2 separate regions of the Homo sapiens genome follow, and region 2 is linked to region 1. Evidence: fine-mapped expression QTL. A gene starts in region 1. The other region holds a variant in brackets. All regions are shown on one strand. Distances are between the middles of the regions. Region 1 holds the start of RRP36 (ribosomal RNA processing 36). Region 2 holds the start of SRF (serum response factor).

Region 1 (10,695 bases):
CTGCCAGGGCTTCTTAAACAGGGAGCAGATGATGATACACCCAAACTCAGGAGATGCTTGCCAGCAAAAGCATTGTCAGTTGCAAGGATTTGCCTGAAAAAACCTCAGATGTACCCAGGTGTACGTGCCACTAGGTTGACAGGTTGTGTTTAAGAGACCATGACCAGCTGGGCATGGTGGCTCACGCCTGTAATCCCAGCACTTCAGGAGACCGAGGACGGTGGATCACCTGAGGTCAGGAGTTTGAGACCAGCCTGGCCAACATAGTGAGACCCCATCTCTACTAAAAATACAAAAATTAGCTGGGCATGGTGGCAGGCGCCTGTAATCCCAGCTACTTGGGAGGCTGAGGCAGGAGAATCGCTTGAACCCGGGAGGGAGGCAGAGTTTGCAGTGAGCTGAGATTGCACCATTGCGCTCCAGCCTGGGGGCAAGAGCGAGACTTCATCTAAAAAAAAAAAAAAAAAAAAAGACCATGACTTCTCATGCTGGATCTTTCTCTTGTCCTGCCCAAGGGCATTTTTTGCCTCCCTTCCCCTTTTTTTTTGTTTTGAGACAGAGTCTCGCTCTGTCGCCAGACTGGAGTGCAGTGGTGTGATCTCGGCTCACTCCAACCTCCGCCACCCGAGTGCAAGCAATTCTCCTGCCTCAGCCTCCTGAGTAGCTGGGACTACAGGTGCGCGCCACCGTGCCCAGCTAATTTTTGTATTTTTAGTAGAGACGGGTTTCACCATGTTGGCCAGGATGGTCTCCGTCTCTTGATCTCGTGATCCACCTGCCTCGGCCTCTCAGGGTGCTGGGATTACAGGTGTGAGCCACTGTGCCCAGCCCCTTCCCCTTTGCATTGCACACTCCCACCTCTATCCGCCTTTCAGGAACCCAAGTTGTGGAAGAGCTTGTTCTCTCTTTTCTACTGGAAATGGCTTGTTCTCTACCACAGTAGCAGGGATGGGGAAGTGGCAGGAGGAGAAAACCCCTCCCTCTATCACCATCCCCCAAGCCTAAGCATACACATACCTTTCTGGCTTAAGTCCTGGCAGCATACCAGGCACAGCTGTCAAAGGAACTCCTTGTGCCTGTGGGGGGCCCTGGGTGACCCCAATGACAACAACTCAGCTTGACAGGAGCTCCCTGTGAGGGGCTAACCAACCGCGGTAACATGGAGGTCCCTGTCCTGGATCAGTCCCGCCCTATCTTGGGTAGGGGGATTGTTCCACTCTAAAAGCCTGAAAGCTTTTCTGCTTTGAGGCACTCATGCCAGCTTTCAATGGACTGTTTGAGGCTGGCTGGGCTATTAATAGCTGTGAGTATTTTGAGATCCCTTTCCCCACCTCAAAGAACACAGATTCTTAGAGAGGTGGCAGTAAGCAGAGCAGAGACAAGAGAATATACCGTTTGGGAAGGGGGCTTCAAGTTTGTGCCAAGCCAGGGACAGAGTGGAGCCTCCACGAGTAGGTTGTGACCATGATATGCAGATTCTGAGCTGGCAATCAGGTGGGGGTGGCCCCACCCTTCACTGTTGGAGAACACTGGGCCCAGGCTGCTCCCTGACCTCGGCAGCTCCCTTGGGGCAGGGCCAGCCACCTGAGCTGAGACTAGTGCCCCTGTGGAGGGGTAGTGTGGGAGGGCCCCCAGGGTGACACTTGGAGGCAAAGGCTGGTTCTGGGCAGAGTCACAGTGAGCTGGGCAGAAGCCTCGCCTGAGGATCCCGTGGCCCCAATTTGTGTGCAGATAGCAGAGGCAGCAGGCCGTGCCGGGGGGGCATGTTGCTGTAACCAGTGGCCCAGGGGATGTTACGGTGGACAGTGCACCTGGAGGGCGGGCCCCGCAGGGTGAACCATGCTGCAGTGGCTGTCGGGCATCGGGTATACTCCTTCGGGGGTTACTGCTCTGGTGAAGACTATGAGACACTGCGTCAGATAGATGTGCACATTTTCAATGCAGGTAAGCCAATGCTGGGGCTGTCCCTGGGTCCCCACATCAGGGTGGGAACGGGCTGCTGATGAGGTTTGGCTGTGGTCTCTGGGACCAAGGGGATTGGGGACAAACATCTGGTTTGGGAAAAGTGGACAGCCTGGAGGGAGGTTCCCAGGGCTGAGCAGAGCTGTGCCCACAGTGTCCTTGCGTTGGACAAAGCTGCCCCCGGTGAAGTCTGCCATCCGTGGGCAAGCTCCTGTGGTACCCTACATGCGCTATGGACACTCAACCGTCCTCATCGACGACACAGTCCTCCTTTGGGGCGGGCGGAATGACACCGAAGGGGCCTGCAATGTGCTCTATGCCTTTGACGTCAGTGAGTATGGATCTCAGAGAGGCTATGTCCTTCCAGATGTTGCCTCAGTTGCCCAAGAAAGGTTTGGGTTGGGGGTCTTGGGGAGTAGAGTACCCCAGAGCTGAGGAGGGACTGTCATAGAGGGTGCTTAGTTGAGCCATTTTCTCATCTCCTTCAGATACGCACAAGTGGTTCACACCCCGAGTGTCAGGGACAGTTCCTGGGGCCCGGGATGGACATTCAGCCTGTGTCCTAGGCAAGATCATGTACATTTTTGGGGGCTACGAGCAGCAGGTAGGTCTGGGAATAAAATAAGAGGTTTAGGGTGGGACTGAGAAAGAGGGGAAGGGCAATTTAGGATGGTGAAATGGGAGGCTTTGGCTTGTTTGCAGGTTTTGAGGGGAGGGATGGAGGGTCAGAGAGTGACCATTGGCTCCCTCTTTTCTTCCTCCTTTTCTCTTCCTACTCAGGCGGACTGTTTTTCCAATGACATTCACAAGCTAGATACCAGCACCATGACATGGACTCTTATCTGTACAAAGGTCTGCTCTTTCTTTTTTTTCCCAAATCCCCACCCTCTGTTGAAGCAATGATAGGAAGCTCAGTCAGAGGAGATCCTCTTCCAGTCTTTGTGCTGACCCCTCCACCATCTCTCTGCCTCTGCCCAGGGCAGCCCTGCACGCTGGAGGGACTTCCACTCAGCCACAATGCTGGGAAGTCACATGTATGTCTTTGGGGGCCGTGCCGACCGCTTTGGGCCATTCCATTCCAACAATGAGATTTACTGCAACCGCATTCGAGTCTTTGACACCAGAACTGAGGCTTGGCTGGACTGTCCCCCGACTCCAGTGCTGCCTGAGGGGCGCCGGAGCCACTCGGCCTGTGAGTGTTTGTTACTTCCCTGTGGAGTTCCCTTCCTGCCCTCTTCACACTCCTGACACTTCCTCTCTCCTTCCAGTTGGCTACAATGGGGAGCTGTACATCTTTGGTGGTTATAATGCAAGGCTGAACCGGCACTTCCATGACCTCTGGAAGTTTAATCCTGGTAAAGAGCACTGCATTTAGGGCAGGAACAAGGAGCAATTGAGGTGGGAGGAAAAGAAAATAATCCTGAGGCGGTGAGGGATGGGGGTGGGGAAGATACCTGGACTAGGCAGGTATTGAACTTCCATATAAATTTCTCTTCAGTGTCCTTTACCTGGAAAAAGATTGAACCGAAGGGGAAGGGGCCATGTCCCCGCCGGCGCCAGTGCTGCTGTATTGTTGGTGACAAGATTGTCCTCTTTGGGGGTACCAGGTTAGAAGGAGAGAGGGAAGGGGCTCAGGGAAGTCACTAATGGGAGAGTGGGAGGTATTTGAAAAGGGGGTTTCGTGGGTAGTTTTTGTCCTACTTTCATCTCTCTTTTGATCCCGACAGTCCATCTCCTGAGGAAGGCCTGGGAGATGAATTTGACCTTATAGATCATTCTGACTTACACATTTTGGACTTTAGTAAGTATAGTTATTCCTGAATTGCTCCTGCCATCAAGGTCCCTGTCTTTGGGTGGTGATATCCAGGACTGGATCCTTTCCTCACCTTTGACCATCTCCTTTCCACAACTTCTCCCTTAAAGGCCCTAGTCTGAAGACTCTGTGCAAACTGGCCGTGATTCAGTATAACCTAGACCAGTCCTGTTTGCCTCATGATATCAGGTACAGCGAGTGGTTGGAAGGGAGGGATTGAGTGAGGGTGAGTGAGCAGCACAGGTGTGACCTGATTAGCTTGGTTTCAGTATGGAGGAGACAGACATTTTTGTTCTGCTGGAGATGTAGTGTACTTGTGGGAAATGAGATGGAAGGAGGTGAATTGACAGCCATCATATAAAACTGTCAGCAGAATAAATTATATGAAAAAAAAATACAGCTCGGCAGCATCACTTTCTGAGACCTAAGCTTATACAGTTATTTTTGTGACCATGCTGAGAACAACTGATTAAATCTTAGAACCTAGCTGCAAAGTAAAGACAAGTTTAGGAGCCTCTGGATCACATTGGTTCCAGAAGATCTGGCTGCTTCCCTTTGAATTTCGTTCTTAGGTTCCAATTAACCACCAGATGTTACTTTATGTATAATTTTTCAGGTTCAAATTAACCACCAGATGTTACTTTGTATATAATTTTTCCTGTCTGGGTCATTCTGAGATACTTCGTCTCTTTGTATCAGTTCAGTTTAACTCTTGCTGGCTGGGCATGGTGGCTCATACCTGTAATCCCATCACTTCGGGAGGTTGAGGTGGGCAAATCAGTTGAGGTCAGGAGTTCGAGACCATCCTGGCCACATGGTGAAGCCCTGTCTATACTAAAAATACAAAAATTAGCTGGGCATAGTGGCAGCCACCAGTAGTCCCAGCTACTTGGGAGGTTGAGGCAAGAGAATTGCTTGAACCCGGGAGGCGGGGGTTTCAGTGAGTCAAGATTGTGCCACTGCACCACTGTACTCCAGCCTAGGTGACAGAACAAGACTCAAAAAAAAAATTAATATGGTTGGGTGGGTGGGGAAGGCCTCAGGAAGGATAGGAGTGCTGAGTCAGAGCCTTAAAAGGATGGGAGTTAAGAGCAAAAATGGGTATTCCTGGTGGGGTGAGGCATTCCTGGTGAGGGTAAGGTGGAGGGGCTGCCTGGTTGGCTCTAAGCAAAGCAGGAAAGGCAGGTTGGGATGTTGACTGACATGTATACACAGATCTCAGGTGCCTGGACACTGCAATATACATACATACATAAACATAAACCGGAAATCCATATGAGCTTGGAGGTAGAGGAGTGGGTGGTGTTGGATTTGGTGGTGGGTGGGTTCTGATTGTTCAACCTAGTAGGTCTCTTAAGTAAGAGGTGGCTGTGGGTGGTTGACCTTTAGGAAGTTGGAGAGACTGGTGTGTTTTTAGCTTGGTTCAAACATCCCTTAGCTTGGGCTGAGGGCCCCCTCTTCTTTCTGTCTCTTATTGTTGGCCTTCCAGGTGGGAGCTGAATGCCATGACCACCAACAGCAATATCAGTCGCCCCATCGTCTCCTCCCATGGGTAGGAGGAAGTTTCTGCCACCTCCCCTCCTGAGCCTGCTGTCATCTTCACTGCCCCTGCCCATCTGTCACCCACCTGCTCCTTTGACCCCTGGACTTGGTATACCTCCATGTGGAGTTGTTGGGCGAGAGGTGTTCTCTGTGCTGTGAATTCAGTGGGGAGCTGTAGCGGGGTGGGGGCTAGGTTCCTCCCCCCTTGGGCCGAGGGCCCCTTCCCCTTGGTGCTCTGTCCCCATCCACCTCCTTTCAGCTGCTCCTGGGCCTCAGCTCTGCCCAGGGCCAGCCAGGTTCTGCTGGGAAGGGAAGGGAATGGGGAGAAGGGAGAAGCAAGCAGTGTCTGAGCCTCAGGAGCTTCCCCCTCCCCCTTTGCCTATCCCCTCCCCTCTGCTTGAGCCTTGAGCCTTGACTGGGAGCTGAAAGGAGTTGCAGCTGTTGGCATGAGACCTCCTTCTCCCCGTCTTGGGGAGGTGGGGACCAGCAGATAAATCCCACCCTTCCTTGAGCTGTCGCTGTACTCTGAAGTTCAGCCAGCTCAGATTTTATAAAAATTAATTAAAATCTCCAAACGTGTTGTGTGTTTTTGTGGAATATGGTGGAGAAGGCTGGAGTTTGCAGTGGGGGCAGGGTGCCGAGGACAAGCACCCTGAGGTTCTGGCTTCTCAGCCAAGGGTATTAGGAAACCAAATGCCACCAAGGCCTGGTCCAAGCTTCTCGGGCGTGGAACCCAGCACCCTGCGACTCGGGCAGAAGGTTGCGACAATGTCTCCAGAGCGGGTTATCCTTTGGGCCCGGCTCCCTGGCCCTCGACCGCGCAGTTTTCTGCCCATTCGTCACCACGTTGAGACCGGGAACGCCGGAAGAGGCGGGGCAGGGGCTGCCGTGAGCGGAAGCGGCGCCATTCGTCTTCCGAGCGCTACTGCCAGCTGATGCCGGGAGCTAACTACCGCGCCGGGGCCGGGGCCGGGGCCGGGGCCCGACGTCCCCGCGGGGCCCGGGACCGCGAGGAGGACGGCGGGGGCCTGGAGCCCGCGGCCGTGGCCCGCGACCTATTGAGGGGTGAGGGCATGGGGCAGGGCGGGCTGGGGAGGGGAAGGAGATTCCCAGGCGGGGCCCTGAGCCTGCAGAGACGGTGCCGGTAAGACTGCCAAGTTCTCTAAGAGGCAGACGCTACACTAGGGGTGCCCCCAGTGCAGTGGAAAGTGGGGGGTGAGAGTAGATGCTTCCGGGATTAGGACATCCTGAGAAGTTTCTTCACGGCAGGATGAGGGTTTTCGGCGATGGGGAACGTATGTGCAATAGCATGGAGGCAGGAAAAGGCATGCATGGCTGCTGAAGGCTTAGTAGATCAGAATTCAGCAGATTCCGTAGACTTTGTTTTTTTAATTTTTTTTTTTTGAGACGGAGTCTCTCTCTGTCGCCAAGGCTGGAGTGCAGTGGCGCGATGTCGGCAAGCTCCGCCTCCCGGGTTCACGCCATTCTGCTGCCTCAGCCTCCAGAGCAGCTGGGACTACAGGCGCCCGCCACCACGCCCGGCTAATTTTTTGTATTTTTAGTAGAGACGGGGTCTCACCTTGTTAGCCAGGATGGTCTCGATCTCCTGACCTCGTGATCCGCCCGCCTCAGCCTCCCAAAGTGCTGGGATTCCAGGCGTGAGCCACTGCGCCCAGCCTGTTTTTTAAATTTTTTATATTTTTTATTTTTTTGAGACAAAGTCTCGCCCTGTAGCCCAGGCTGGAGTGTAGTTGCACCATGACGGCTCACTGCGGCCTCGAACTCCCGGGCCCAAGAGATCCTCCTACCTCAGCCTTTCGAGTAGCTGGGACTGCAGGCGCGTCACCACGCCTGCACGGATGGGTTTGTTTATTTATTTATTTATTTATTTAATGTAGAAACAAGGTCTCACCTTTTTTTTTTTTTTTTTTTTGACGGCGTCTCGCTCTGTTGCCCATGCTGGAGTGCAGTAGCGCGATCTCAGCTCACTGCAAGCTCCGCCTCCCGTGTTTACGCCATTCTCCTGCCTCAGCCTCCCGAGTAGTGGGACTACAGGCGCCCGCCACCACGCCCGGCTAATTTTTTGTATTTTTAGTAGAGATGGGGTTTCACCGTGTTAGCCAGGATGGTCTCTATCTCCTGACCTCGTGATCCGCCCGCCTCGGCCTCCCAAAGTGCTGGGATTACAGGCGTGAGCCACCTCGCCCAGCCAGGTCTCATCATGTTACCAGGTGCCAGGGCTGGTCTCCAGTTCCTGGGCTCAAGTGATCCACCCGCCTCAGCCTCCCAAGGATTACAGGATTACTGTGCCCAGCAAATGCTGCAGGCTTTTTGTTAAGGCACAGTTCTAGCTGCTGGAGATAGTTGTGAATAAAGTAGTCAAACACTCCTATCCTGGCCGGGTGTGGTGGATCACACCTGTAATCCCAGCACCAGGGGAGACTGAAGCAGGAGGATCGCTTGAGCCCAGGAGTTCAAGACCAGCCTGGTAAACATAATGAGACCCGCTTTTCTACTAAAAATAAAAAAATTTAGCCAGGGTGGTGGCCCACGTCTGTATTCCCAGCCACTGAGGAGGCTGAGGCATGAGGATAGTTTGAGCCCAGGAGGTCGAGGCTGCAGTGAGCAGTGATTAGGCCACTGCACTCCAGCCTGGGCAACAGAGCAAGACCTTTTTTCAAAATAAATAAAATTTAAGTCCAGGTGTGGCTCATGCCTGTAATCCCAGCACTTTGGGAGGCCGAGGTGGGCGGATCACAAGGTCAGGAGATCAAGACCATCTGGGCCAACATGGTGAAACTCGTCCTTATTAAAAATACAATAATCAGCTGGACTTGGTGGTGCGTGCCTTAGTCCCAGCTACTGAGGAGGCTGAGGCAGGAGAATCGCTTGAACCTGGGAGGCGGAGGTTGCAGTGAGCCGAGATCGCGCCACTGCACTCCAGCCTCGTGACAGAGTGAGTCCAGCTCAAAATAAATAAGTAAAATTTAAGGGAGACAAGTAAATTATTACATTAAAAGGCAATAAAACACTGAATTGTAGACTAGAGAACTGGATTTTGTGGAATATGAATTATAGCTCAATTTTTTTTAAGGTGATAGAGGATATGGAGAAAAAATAAAGCTTAGGAGAGGTTGCATTTTTTTTTTTTTTCCGAGATGGAGTCTCGCTCTGTCACCCAGGCTGGAGTGCAGTGACGTGATCTCGGCTCACTGCATCCTCTGCCTCCCAGGTTCAAGCTCTTCTCCCGCCTCAGCCTCCCGAGTAGCTGGGATTACAGGCACCTGCCATCATGCCCAGCTAATTTTTGTATTTTTGTAGAGACGGTTTCACCATGTTGACCGGGCTGGTCTTAAACTCCTGACCTCAGGTGATTGATCTGCCTCAGCCTCCCAAAGTGCTGGGATTACAGGCGTGAGCCACCACACCTGGACGAGGGGTCGCAATTTTAAATAACTTAGAGAAGACCTCTTTGGGAAGGTGATTTTGAATAAAGGCTTGAAGGAACTGAGGGAGGAGCTGTACCTATGTACAGTTTCTGGGGGAAGTGTACCAAGCAGAGGCAACATGTGCAGAGGAACTGAGGTGGGAATATGCTGCTAGGAGACACATTGAGAGGAGTGAGAAGGAGATGAGTAGAGTAGAGATATGACAGGGGCCAGGTCACTTGGGGGCTTGCAGGCCATTATTAAGGTACATGGCTTTTACTGTGAGCAAGATGGAAGCCATTGGGGACTTTTGCCTGTAGGAGTAACATGATCTGAAGTTTATGTGTGGGAGTGATAAGATCTGATTTTATTTTCGATGCCTCTCTCAGGCTGAATTGAGGCGCATAGCTTTGAGAGGAGTGAGGCTGGTGGTTGGGAGACTAGGAGGCTAGAGCACTGATTGAGGTGAGAGATGCTGAGCATGTGGACCAGGACACTGGCAATGGTAACTGAGCAAGGGAGGCAGATGCCCTTCTGGGGAAACCTGTGAATGAGTAAAAGAGAGAGTAAAAGAATGAGTAAAAGAGAAAAAGAAGGGACTATGGTTTGGTGCACCTTTGACCTTACATATACACCTTCCTTAGCAAGATGAGGCCCCAGGTTGCTGAAATAGTTGGAGAGTTTAACACTATCACAGCCTCTGCTGCCTAGGACTTCTAATAATGATTGGTCTGATGGGGTATTAGGATTAGCTAGCTAAGGAATGGGGATGGGAAGATGTCTTTTCTGCAGTGGGACATGCTGAGCTGAGTTGTATGTCCCTCCCCACTTCCACAGGCACATCTAACATGTCATTTGAGGAGCTGTTGGAATTGCAGAGCCAAGTGGGGACTAAGACGTACAAACAATTGGTAGCTGGAAATAGTCCTAAGAAACAAGCTTCTAGACCACCTATCCAAAATGCATGTGTTGCAGATAAGCACAGGTAAGCAAGGCTTGCCCTAGAAGTTGGAAGATAACTGGGACCTTGAATAGGTATGTTGTCTTGGGTGACAGGTGGGAAGCCTTTGACCAACACTGGAGTCCTCTTGACTTGGCTTTTAATTTCTCCATAGGCCTCTGGAAATGTCAGCCAAGATCCGAGTACCATTTTTACGTCAGGTTGTTCCCATTAGTAAAAAGGTAAGGAAGAAGGCCAGGCACTGTGGCTCACGCCTGTAATCCCAGCACTTTGGGAGCCCGAGGTGGGCGATCACCTGAGATCAGGAGTTCCAAGACCAGCATGGCCAACATGGTGAAACCCTGTCTCTACTAAAAATACAAAAATTAGCTGGGCATGGTGGTGTGTGCCTGTAGTCCCAGCTGCTTGGAAAACTGAGGCACAAGAATCGCTTGAACCTGGGAGGTGAAGGTTGCAGTGAGCCAGGATCATGCCACTGCCCTACAGCCTGTGGGACAGAGTAAGACTCTGTCTCAAAAAAAAAAAAAAAAAAAAAAATAGAGGCCGGGCGCAGTGGCTCATGTCTGTAATCCCAGCACTTTGGAAGGCCAAGGTGGGCGAATCACGAGGTCAGGAGATTGAGACCATCCTAGCTAACACAGTGAAACCCCGTCTCTACTAAAAATACAAAAAAAAATAGCCGGGCGTGGTGGCGGGTGCCTGTAGTCCTAGCTACTCAGGAGGCTGAGGCAGGAGAATGGTGTGAACTTGGGAGGCACAGCTTGCAGTGAGCCGAGATTGCACCACTGCACTCCAGCCTGGGCGACAGAGCGAGACTGTGTCTCAAAAAGCAAAAAAAAAGAAAGATGAGGAAGAGACAGGAAGCACTTTTTCTCAGTGAAAGGAGATTGAACAGTTGTGTTTTATATTCTCTCTCTTCTCTCCAAAGGTAGCCCGGGACCCTCGCTTTGATGATCTGTCAGGGGAATATAATCCTGAGGTGTTTGACA
Region 2 (10,695 bases), 150 kb after region 1:
GCAAGATCACCTGTTGTCTGTGCAACCCTGTGCTGTCCTCTGACTGTCACCTAGACGGGCCTAATCCTTGTGCTCAGATGGGGAGGGTAGAAGCGTGAAGGGGAGCAAGTTAGAGTAGGATTGGAGAAGGAGTTAGTGACAGACTCAGGTCTCTGAGTCCTTTCAAGACCCTAGGAGGGAAGTGAAGTAGGTAGAACCAAGCAGAGAGACGGTGCTTAATGCCTGGATCTTGTGTCCTCACCTATCCTCTGCCTCATTCCAGTAACTTCAGCCTGGTTCACCATCCAAAAGAAACGAGTCCTGAACTCCAAAACTGCTCTAGTTCCTTTACTCCTCACCAAACTTCTGAATAATAAAAATAACAGCAGGCTGGACATGGTGGTTCACACCTGTAATCCTAATACTTTGGGAGACTGAGGCAGGAAGATCACTTGGGACCAGGAGTTTGAGACCAGCCTGGCCAACATAGTGAGACCCTGTCTCTACAAAAAATTTAAAAATTAGCCAGGTGTGGCGACATGCACTTGTAGTCCTAACTACTGAGGAGGCTGAGGCAGGAGGATCATGTGAGCCCAGAAGTTTGAGGTGGCAGTGAGCTATGATCACAACACTGCACTCCAGCCTGGGTGATCAAGTGAGACCCTGTCTCAAAAAAATAAAAAAAACAGGCCGGCTGGGCACGGTGGTTCACGCCTGTAATCCCAGTACTTTGGGACCTGAGGTGGGTGGATCCACGAGGTCAGGAGTTTGAGACCAGCCTGGCCAATATGGTGAAACCCTGTCTCTATTAAAAATACAAAAGTTAGCTGGGCGTGGTGGTGCACACCTGTAGTCCCAGCTGCTTGGGAGACTGAGGCGGCAGAATCGGTTGAACCTGGGAGGCAGAGGTTGCAGTGAGCCAAGATTGCACCACTGCACTCTAGCCTGGGCAACAGAGCAAGACTCTGTCTCAAAAAATAATAATAATAAAAGGCCACAGGAACAGTGGCTCATGCCTATAATCTCAGCACTTTAAAAGGCTGAGGTGACAGAAATGCCTGGGCAACATGGCTAGACTACACCTCTACAAAAAATTTAAAACTTAGCTGGGTGTAGGGCCGGGCACCATGGCTCACACCTGTAATCCCAGCACTTTGGGAGGCCAAGGCGGGTGGATCACAAGGTCAAAAGATAAAGACCGTCCTGGCTAACACGGTGAAACCCTGTCTCTACTAAAACAAAAAATTAGCCGGGAGTGGTGGTGGGTGCCTGTAGTGCCAGCTACTCGGGAGGCTGAGGCAGGAGAATGGCGTGAACCTGGGAGGCAGAGCTTGCAGTGAGCCGAGATCGCACCACTGCACTCCAGCCTGGGCGACAGAGTGAGACTCTGTCTCAAAAAAAAAAAAAAAAAAAAAAAGAGAGACCATCCTGGTCAACATGGTCTCTACTAAAAAAAATACAAAATTTAGCTGGGCATGGAGGCACGTGCCTGTAGTCCCAGCTACTCAGGAGGCTGAGGCAGGAGAATCGCTTGAACCTGGGAGGCAGAAGTTAAAATGAGCCGAGATCATGCCACGGTACTCCAGCCTGGAGACAGAGCGAGACTCTGTCTCAAAAAAAAAAAAAAAAATTAGCTGGGGGTAGTGGGGGTGTGCCCATGGTCTCAGCTATTCTGGAGGCTGAGGAGGGAGGATCTCTTGAACCCAGGAGGTTCTCACCACTGCACTCCAGGCTGGGTGACAGAGCAAGACCCTGTCTCAAAAAAAAAAAAAAAAAAAAAAAGAAAAGCTAATGTTTTTTGAAGACTTTATCTGCACTAGTCACTTAATGTGCATTATCTCATTTAATCTCTGCAACTACTCTGTTAGCCAGATGAGATTATTTCCATTTCACAGATTAGGAAACTGAGTCTCAAGGGAAGTCAGGTAGTTTGCCCATGGTTACACAGCTAGTAAGTGAGCCATAGTCACTGGTATACACCATGCATTACATCCTTCAGATGTGTTGAAGGGAAAATTTTTCTAGAGCAGTGTTTTTCAAACTCTGGTTTGCAACCAGCATTAAAAAAGAAAAAAAGGGAAAAAAAGAAACATAATAGGCACTATCAGAGTACGTTGTATCCTTTAAGGGTAATTGTTGTTTTACAAAATTTTGTTATATTTGCTGCATATATATATATATATTGGATAGTGTGTTAGTTAACTGTTGGGTGGTGATACTGCATAGTAATCCCCAAATCTTACTAGCTGACAAGATTTTTTTCTGACTCATGTATCTGCAGGTTGGTGAGGGTTGGCTGATTTTGGCTGTGCTTGGTGCCAGGCTGGAGGTCTGGCTTAGGTCTAGTCTGCTGGCACCCAGAGCATGTTCTTATGCAGTGGCAGAGTGCAAGAGGTCAAGCCAAACTGTGCAAGCACATTTCAAACCACAAGTCTGAGCTGGCACCATGGCATGTGCCTGTAGTCCCAGCTACTTGGGAGGCTGAGGCAGGAGGTTCGCTTTAAGCCCATGAGTTTGAGGCTGTAGTGTGCAATGATTGTTCCTGTGAATAGCCACTACACTCACTCCAACCTGGGCAAAATAGACCCCATCTCTTACACACACACACACTCACGCACACACACACACGTCTATTAACATTTTATTGGCCAAAGCAAGTCACACAGTAAAACCCAACATCAGCACCAGTAGGACATACTGCAAAGTCACACGGCAAGGATGTTGATGTATATAATTCCAACAGAGGGTGTGAAGAGTTGGGAGCAATAATCTAACTGACCACAGGTTGCAATGTAAAAATGATTTCTGACTGTGGGTTGCACCCAGAAATATTTGAAAGGCACTGCTCTGGAAAGTTATTAATCACTAAATCCTCTTCTAACTCTTGTTCTTCCTTGAGCACTCCATAGTGGCTAACATTGTTGGCCATACCTTCCTCTTCAGAGACTCTCCTCCGTCCCCACCTTTTTTTTTTTTTTTTGAGACTATCTTGCTCTGTCACTTAGGCTGGAGTGCAGTGGTGTGATCTCAGCTCACTGCAAGCTCCGCCTCCGGGTTCACGCCATTCTCCTGCCTCAGCCTCCCAAGTGGCTGGGACTACAGGCACCTGCCACCACGCCCGGCTAATTTTTCGTATTTTTAGCAGAGACGGGATTTCACCATGTTAGCCAGGATGGTCTCGATCTCCTGACCTCATGATCCACCCGCCTTGGCCTCCCAAAGTGCTGGGATTACAGGCGTGAGCCACCGCGCCCCCCCGCCCTCCCTCACTTTTTTACACTGTCAACAGTTTCTCTGGCCAGTCCTTCTCCAGCCCTGGCTAAGGCTTTTTTTTTTTTTTTTTTTTTTTGAGACAGAGTCTTGCCCTGTTGCCCAGGCTGGAGTGCAGTGGCACGATCTCGGCTCACTGCAAGCTCCGCCTCCCAGGTTCACGCCATTCTCCTGCCTCAGCCTCCCGAGTAGCTGGGACTATAGGCACCCGCCACCATGCCCAGCTAATTTTTTATACTTTTAGTAGAGACGGGGTTTCATGGTGTTAACCAGGGTGGTCTCGATCTCCTGACCTCATGATCCGCCCGCCTCAGCCTCCCAAAGTGCTGGGATCACAGGAGTTAGCCACCGCGCCCCGCCTAAGGCTTCTTTTTCTCCTGCCATGGCTATGCTCCTGAGACTGTCATTGCCCTTCCTTTCTCTACTTTCTTTCTTTCTTTCTTTCTTTTTTTTTTCTGGAGATAGGGTCTCACTCTGTCACCTAGGCTGGAGTATAGTGGTAGATCATGGCTCATTCCAACCTCAACCTCCCAGGCTCAAGGGATCCTCCCACCTCAGCTTCCGAGTAGCTGGGACTACAGGTGCGTACCACCAAACCCAGCTAATTTTTGTATTTTTCGTAGAGATAGGGTTTTGCCATGTTACCCAGGCTGGTCTCAAATTCCTGAGCTCAAGCGATCCACTTGCCTCAGCCTCCCAAAGTGCTCACAGGCATGAGCCACCACACCCAGCCTATTTTTGCTTAATTTTATTATTATTATTATTATTATTATTATTTTGAAAGAGTGTCTCGCTCTGTCCCCCAGGCTGTAGTGCAATGCCTTGATTTCGGCTCACTGCAACCTCCACCTCCTGAGTTCAAGCGATTCTCCTGCCTCAGACTCCCCAGAAGCTGGGATTATAGGTGCCCGCCACCACACCCAGCTAATTTTTTTTGTATTTTCAGTAGAGACAGGGTTTCACCATATTGGCCAGTGTGGTCTCAAACTCCTGACCTTAAGCGATCCATCCGCCTCAACCTCCCAAAGTGCTGGGATTACAGGCATGAGCCACCGCACCCGGCCTATTTTTGCTTAATTTTAAAAGAAAAATATAAAAGTCATATTGATTGTCAAAGAAGTCACATGGTACAAACTTATATAAAGCAAAAAAACACACCCCTCTCATCCCAAACCTCACTCTCCATAGGTAAGCACTATTAGTGTTTGGAGTGTGGCTTTCCAGACTTTTCCTGGGCACAATGACTCATAAATTCTTTTCCATTACTGCT[A/C]ATGCTGCCATCACAATTGATACCCTCTTTGCCTCTGTGCAAAATTATGAATCCCTGAGTAAAGGTTAATTCCAAATGAAAACAGATTTAGGGTATTTTGACAGTAATTTTTTTTTCTTTTTTGAGACAGGGTTTTCCTCTTACCTAGATTGAGTGCAGTGGTGCCATCATGGCTCACTGCAGCCTGGGCTCAAGCAATCTTCCCACCTCAGCCTCCCTAGTAGCTGGGACTACGACTACAGATGCGTGCCACTGTGCCCCAGCATTTTTTTTTTTTTTTGAGATGAAGTTTCACTCTTTCACCCAGGCTGGAATGAAGTGGCACGATCTTGGCTCACTGCAATCTCTCCCCTCCAGATTCAAGTGATTCTCCTGCCTCAGCCTCCTGAGTAGCTGGGATTATAGGCATACACCACCAGGCCCGGCTAATTTTTGTATTTTTAGGAGAGGTGGGATTTTTGCCATGTTGGCCAGGCTGGTCTTGAACTCCTGACCTCAGGTGATCCACCCTCCTAGGCCTCCCAAAGTGCTAGGATTACAGGCATGACCCACCTTGCCTGCCTGTGTTTTTTTTTTTTAAGAGATGGGGTCTCATTGTGTTGTCCAGGCTGGTGTCAAAACTCCCGGACTCAAATTATCCTCCCACCTTGACCTCAAAAAGTGCTGGGATTTTAGGTGTGAATCACTGCACCCAGCCATGACAGTAATTTTTAAAAGCAATCCTTAATTTTTGTTTGTTATTAGTTAGGTGATAAAAATCAGAAGAAAGAAAGAAAGGTCAGGGTGGAATCTGTGTGGTGTGAGGGATCTGGCTGAAATTCCCATGCACTTACAGAGGCCCTTCATGGTCTGGGGTGGACATGAGCTCCCATCTGTTGCAAGGTGCTACTCTGATCAGGCCTTTTCGGAGGAACATTTCAACTTCACATTTCAGAGCAGCCAGGCAGGAGCTTACCTAGGCTCAGTAGGCTGCGTGGAGTCTATGGTAAAGTGGAGAGCCTCTTCTATGGCCACCATCAGCTCCAGGTTATAATGCTTTTGTGGGTACCTAGGCCCAGTGTTACCAAAAATTCTGATTTTTTTGAGAGAGGTCAGATATTCAGATTTTTTTTTTTTTTTGAAAAGGAGTCTCACTCCGTAGCTCAGGCCGGAGTACAGTGGCCCCATTTAGGCTCACTGCAACCTCTGCCTCCCAGGTTCAAGTGATTCTCCTGCCTCAGCCTCTCGTGTAGCTGGGATTACAGATGTGTGCCACTATGCCCGGCTACTTTTTTATTTTTTTAGTAGAGATGGCGTTTCACCATGTTGGCCAGGCTGGTCTTGAACTCCTGACCTCAAGTGATCCATCCACCTTAGCTTCCCAAAGTGCTGGGATTACAGACATGAGCCACCACGCCCGGCCAGACATTCAGATTTTTATGTAAACTCTTATGATTTTTAAATGTTATAAGGTCCAAATAAAACACCTCTATGAGACAGTTTTTGATTTTGACTTTATCCCTAGCAATACTTTTGGCTCTGGAACCTGCAGTAATCCAATAGTGTGGGTAGAGGTCTCCTCCTGACTCCCTGTGGTGACAAAGGACATGAAGATGGGCCATCCCAAGCAGACAGAGAAGCTGTGACACTAACACTGGTGTGCAATGACCCAGGAGTTGGGAGAAGTTGAAGAGAGGGCAGCCTATTTGAAGGGAAGCTAAGGACTGCGTTCTTCCCAGACACCCTCCCCTATAGATGTGACAGAGAGCAGTTGTCCCTGCTGAGGGATGTCACCCCTGCATGTGTCTAAACTAGGGGGCGCAAATGAAAGGGTCTTTAGAGGGCAGGTGGGAATGAAATCCCAGAGCTTTGGCTGTAATATTATGGTGCTCAGACAAAACATGACCCCAGGCATCATTTGTGGTCCCTAAAACCCTTCTGGAACCTATTTATCTGTTTGACCTGTTCTTCCTCTTGGGCTAACACGTTCCATATGTTTAAGTACCTGTTGTAAAGAGTAAATTAGTGGAGGGAGGGGAGACCTCTTTAAAACTATTGGGGGCTGGGTGCAGTGGCTCAGGCCTTTAATCCCAGCACTTTGGGAGGCCGAGGTGAGAGAATCGCTTGAGCCCAGAAGTTTGAGACCAGCCTGGGCAACATAGGGAGACCTTATCTCTATATGACAAAAAATACACACTATATTTTATTCACTATACACACAAAATACACACTATATTTTACTGATCACTTGCACATATTTTATTTCAGTATTTTTCAAGCTTTTGGATTGTGACTCACAGTAAGAAATGCAGTTAATATTGTCATCCATTACACACATACACTGAATTATGAGAAATTGACAATATCCCACCTTCTTGACCTATAAAATGGCAATTTTGTAGGGTTCAACCTATATATAATGCAAACAAACATTTTATGCAACAATATTTGCCCTTGCTTTTTGTGATACCCATTAATTTATTCTTTTAAATGTTGATTGTAGTATACTGAATTGATATCACTACCACTACCAGTAATGACTAGGTTACAATCAACTGCTTTATTTAATCTCCATAATTTTTCGGGCAGGAATAATCACTGCCTCCCATCCCCTTAAACATGCCAAGATGCTTTATCCCTAGGATGAGGTGACTTACTCCAGGTAACTCCTATTGCCTAACCACTGACCAATTACTCTGCCCTTTAGTCTTTATGTCATTAAATCTGCATTAAGAATTTCATGGAATAGGCCCGGCATGGTGGCTCATGCCTGTAATCCCAGCACCTTGGGAGACCGAGGTGGGAGGATCACTTGAGGTCAGCAGTTCGAGACCAGCCTGGACAACATGGCGAAACCCCATCTCTACTAAAAACACAAAATAACTAGCCAGGTGTGGTGGTGGGCACCTGTAATCCCAGCTATTTGGGAAGCTGAGGCAGCAGGAGAATCGCTTGAACTGGGGAGGCAGAGGTTGCAGTGAGTCGAGATCGTGCCAGTGCACTCCAGCCTGGGCGACAGAGCGAGACTCTGTCTCAAAAAAAAAAAAAAAAAAAACTCAGGGAATGGATAGCAGCATTGATGAATATTGCGTCTGGAGAGATCAGATCACTTGTCACTTGTTTCCAGGCACAGGGCTTACCAAGAGGCAGATTCCAGATTTAAATAATTCTGTAACAGCAAAGTCCAAGCTATTTTCACTGCTTTGGAGAAAAGACCCAGACCCAGAGCTTGAACCTCACTTTGCAGCACCCCAGTTCTAATCTTTTAAGTTTTTTTTTTTTTTTTTTTTTTTTTCTGCTGGGCACGGTGGTTCATGCCTATAATCCCAGCACTTTGGGAAGCCGAGGGGGAAGGATCGCTTGAGGCCAGGAGTTCGAAACCAGTCTGGGCAACATGGCAAAACCCCATCTCTACAAAAAATACAAAAATTAGGCCAGAGTGGTGGCGCGCACCTGTAGTTCCAGCTACGTGAGAGGCGGAGGTGGGAGAATCGCTTGAACCCGGGAGGCAGAGGTTGCAATGAGCTCAGATCCCGCCACTGCACTCCAGGTTGGGCGACAGAGCGATACCCTGTGTGAAACTTTTTTTTTTTTCTCCAACGGGCTTTCCAGAGAAGTGTGTGTATGTGCGTGTGTGTGCGCGAGCGTGCTTGCTTGGGCTTAAACTTTCTGTCGGGCCACACTTTCCCAAGTCTTTGCACTGGCTGTAGGGTGGGCTTTATCCTCGGGACGTCCTCCTCCCCAAGTCCAGCCTGCAGCTGGAAGTCTTCACTGATCTCCATCTCTCCTCCCTGATCTCCGTCTCTCCTCCCTGCCCGCCTCAGGACTGGGAGGCCGATCTCTCTCTCTCGCCCTCCCCTCCACCAGCCTTTTCCAGATGTATGTCTGCCAAAGACCCCCCAGTGCAGAGGATGATGAATGAAGATCCTCGAGCCAGCCCGGTGGGAAAGTTTCGTCGCCTACAAAAGCGAGGGAAAGGGAAGGGAAGTTGGGGGTAGGGGAAAAGTTAGAGCTGAGAGGCTGGGGCGCGACGAGTCTGGACACCGGGCGGGGACCCAAGCTCTCTCCGCTCAGCCAATAACTGTGCCTCCCTTAGGAAGGCGTGAGGAAATGCTCCAATCAATCCCTGCACTCCTCCCTTGGAATTTGGGCTGTATTTTTTTATTTACTGCAAACCCCACAATCCACCCAGGGGTTTCCCCAGTGTTTGCCTCCAGCGGTCCCGGTGCCCATTTACTAGTGCTGCTCCCTCTCTTCCGCAAGACTGCGCTCCAGTCCCAGCCTCCTTCTCCGCGGGTGCCTCCCAAACCGTTCTATCATTCTCGGGTTCAGGGAGGCGGAATCGTGCCTGCTCTCCGGTTCCTTTAAGAGGCGTCGGCTCCACCCCTCTCAGAGTCGCGGTCTGACGCGAGATGACAGCAACGAGTTCGGTATGTCTATGCAAATAAGCGCCCTCTTGTGGGCCAATGGGGAGCGGAGGTGCCGGAACCACGGACCAATGGGGCGGGGGCGCTGGGGCTCACCATATAAGGAGCGGCCTCGCCATAAAAGGAAACATTGTATCTCTTTATATGGGGGGAAGGGTCGGGGGATCCCTCCGCCGCCAGCGCGTGGTCCCGGCCCCCTCCACCCGCCGTCTCGGCCGCGGCCAGCAGCCCCTGCCCCCCGGGGGACGCTGACGGCCGCCCGGCGCGCCGCCCTAGCAGACGGACAGGGGGCGCTGCGCGCGGCCTGGGGCAACCCGGGCCACAGGGGCAGGAAAGTGAGGGCCCAGGTCGGCCCGGGCGTGCAGGGGCCCCGGGTTCGCAGCGGCGGCCGCGGCAGCGATAGCGGCACTAGCAGCAGCGGGAGTGCCGGGTTGAGCCGGGAAGCCGATGGCGGCGGCTGCGGCGGCTCCGATTCCTCGCTGACTGCCCGTCCGCCCTCCTGCATCGAGCGCCATGTTACCGACCCAAGCTGGGGCCGCGGCGGCTCTGGGCCGGGGCTCGGCCCTGGGGGGCAGCCTGAACCGGACCCCGACGGGGCGGCCGGGCGGCGGCGGCGGGACACGCGGGGCTAACGGGGGCCGGGTCCCCGGGAATGGCGCGGGGCTCGGGCCCGGCCGCCTGGAGCGGGAGGCTGCGGCAGCGGCGGCAACCACCCCGGCGCCCACCGCGGGGGCCCTCTACAGCGGCAGCGAGGGCGACTCGGAGTCGGGCGAGGAGGAGGAGCTGGGCGCCGAGCGGCGCGGCCTGAAGCGGAGCCTGAGCGAGATGGAGATCGGTATGGTGGTCGGTGGGCCCGAGGCGTCGGCAGCGGCCACCGGGGGCTACGGGCCGGTGAGCGGCGCGGTGAGCGGGGCCAAGCCGGGTAAGAAGACCCGGGGCCGCGTGAAGATCAAGATGGAGTTCATCGACAACAAGCTGCGGCGCTACACGACCTTCAGCAAGAGGAAGACGGGCATCATGAAGAAGGTACCAAGCCGGGGGGCTGGCCGGCCCCGGGGCCCGGTTGGGGTGGGGATGTGCAAAGGGAGCCCGGGAGGACCGCAGAGCCGAGGCGGAGGTGAGAGGCTGCGAGTCCGCAGGAGGTGTGTGGGAGGGGATGGCTCCTGCCCGGGGAGGGCCGAAGGGGAGGGGCCGCCGGGGAAATGTGGGGAGAGGGGAGATCCCGCGAACGCTCGCAACCGTGGGGAAAGGCGCAGAGGTGGGAGTGACCGGCGCCAGAGAGGAAGAGGGCCCTTGCTGAGTGAAGGGGTGAGGAGCGGTGATGGGAGGCTACGAGGCTGCCGGGGAGGTGGATAATGAGAACCCGGGATCAGTAGGTCCAGTGCACTCCGGTGTTCGGACGAGGGCGCCGGAAAAGCAGGGAGCAAACGAGAAGGTATGGAGGTGAGGAGGCTGGAGCTGCATGACAACAATGAGCGAACATGTGTGGGAGGAAGTGGGCACCACGAGAGTAGTGCTGGTTGGAAGGACAGGCAGGGTTAGGGACCAGGTAAGGGAGCGGGGCAGGAGAACTGGTGCTGCCCTGAGCAGCAGGAACCTAGTCCTGCGCCGGCCGTGAGTCTTCCATGGCATCCACTGGGAACCACATGCTCCTGGCAGGACCCGCTGCAGAATCTCCTGCCGTTAGGACAAGTGGGGTTTCCAGCCCTAGGGAGAATCTATGCTTGGATGGGGTTTGGGGGAAGTCAGGGAGGCTTGCAGAGGTACCTA

What was found. PIP is the estimated chance that this variant, and not a neighbour inherited with it, causes the effect.
Region 2: its variant is fine-mapped to the expression of RRP36 in whole blood (INTERVAL, PIP 0.97).

Annotation. Positions count from the first base shown.
Region 1 is chr6:43,015,403-43,026,097 of GRCh38, forward strand. RRP36 (ribosomal RNA processing 36) reads left to right here and starts at 6,221. Exons shown (of 7, transcript NM_033112.4): 1 at 6,221-6,382; 2 at 9,583-9,730; 3 at 9,861-9,927; 4 at 10,635-10,695. The coding sequence starts at 6,253. KLHDC3 (kelch domain containing 3) reads left to right here. Exons shown (of 11, transcript NM_057161.4): 2 at 1,732-1,944; 3 at 2,117-2,293; 4 at 2,451-2,566; 5 at 2,743-2,814; 6 at 2,941-3,154; 7 at 3,231-3,317; 8 at 3,461-3,569; 9 at 3,690-3,763; 10 at 3,886-3,964; 11 at 5,265-5,892. The coding sequence starts at 1,791. The coding sequence ends at 5,331. It also overlaps a transcript of MEA1 not described here. RefSeq lists enhancers at 5,773-6,504, 5,903-6,012, 6,073-6,122, 6,505-7,236 and silencers at 6,213-6,282, 6,293-6,342, 6,353-6,422.
Region 2 is chr6:43,162,219-43,172,913 of GRCh38, forward strand. It overlaps SRF (serum response factor), which reads left to right and starts at 9,051. Exons shown (of 7, transcript NM_003131.4): 1 at 9,051-9,951. The coding sequence starts at 9,439. RefSeq lists enhancers at 8,255-8,984, 10,011-10,695, 10,270-10,479 and a silencer at 8,960-9,539. The variant A/C (reference allele first, on the strand shown) is at 4,520.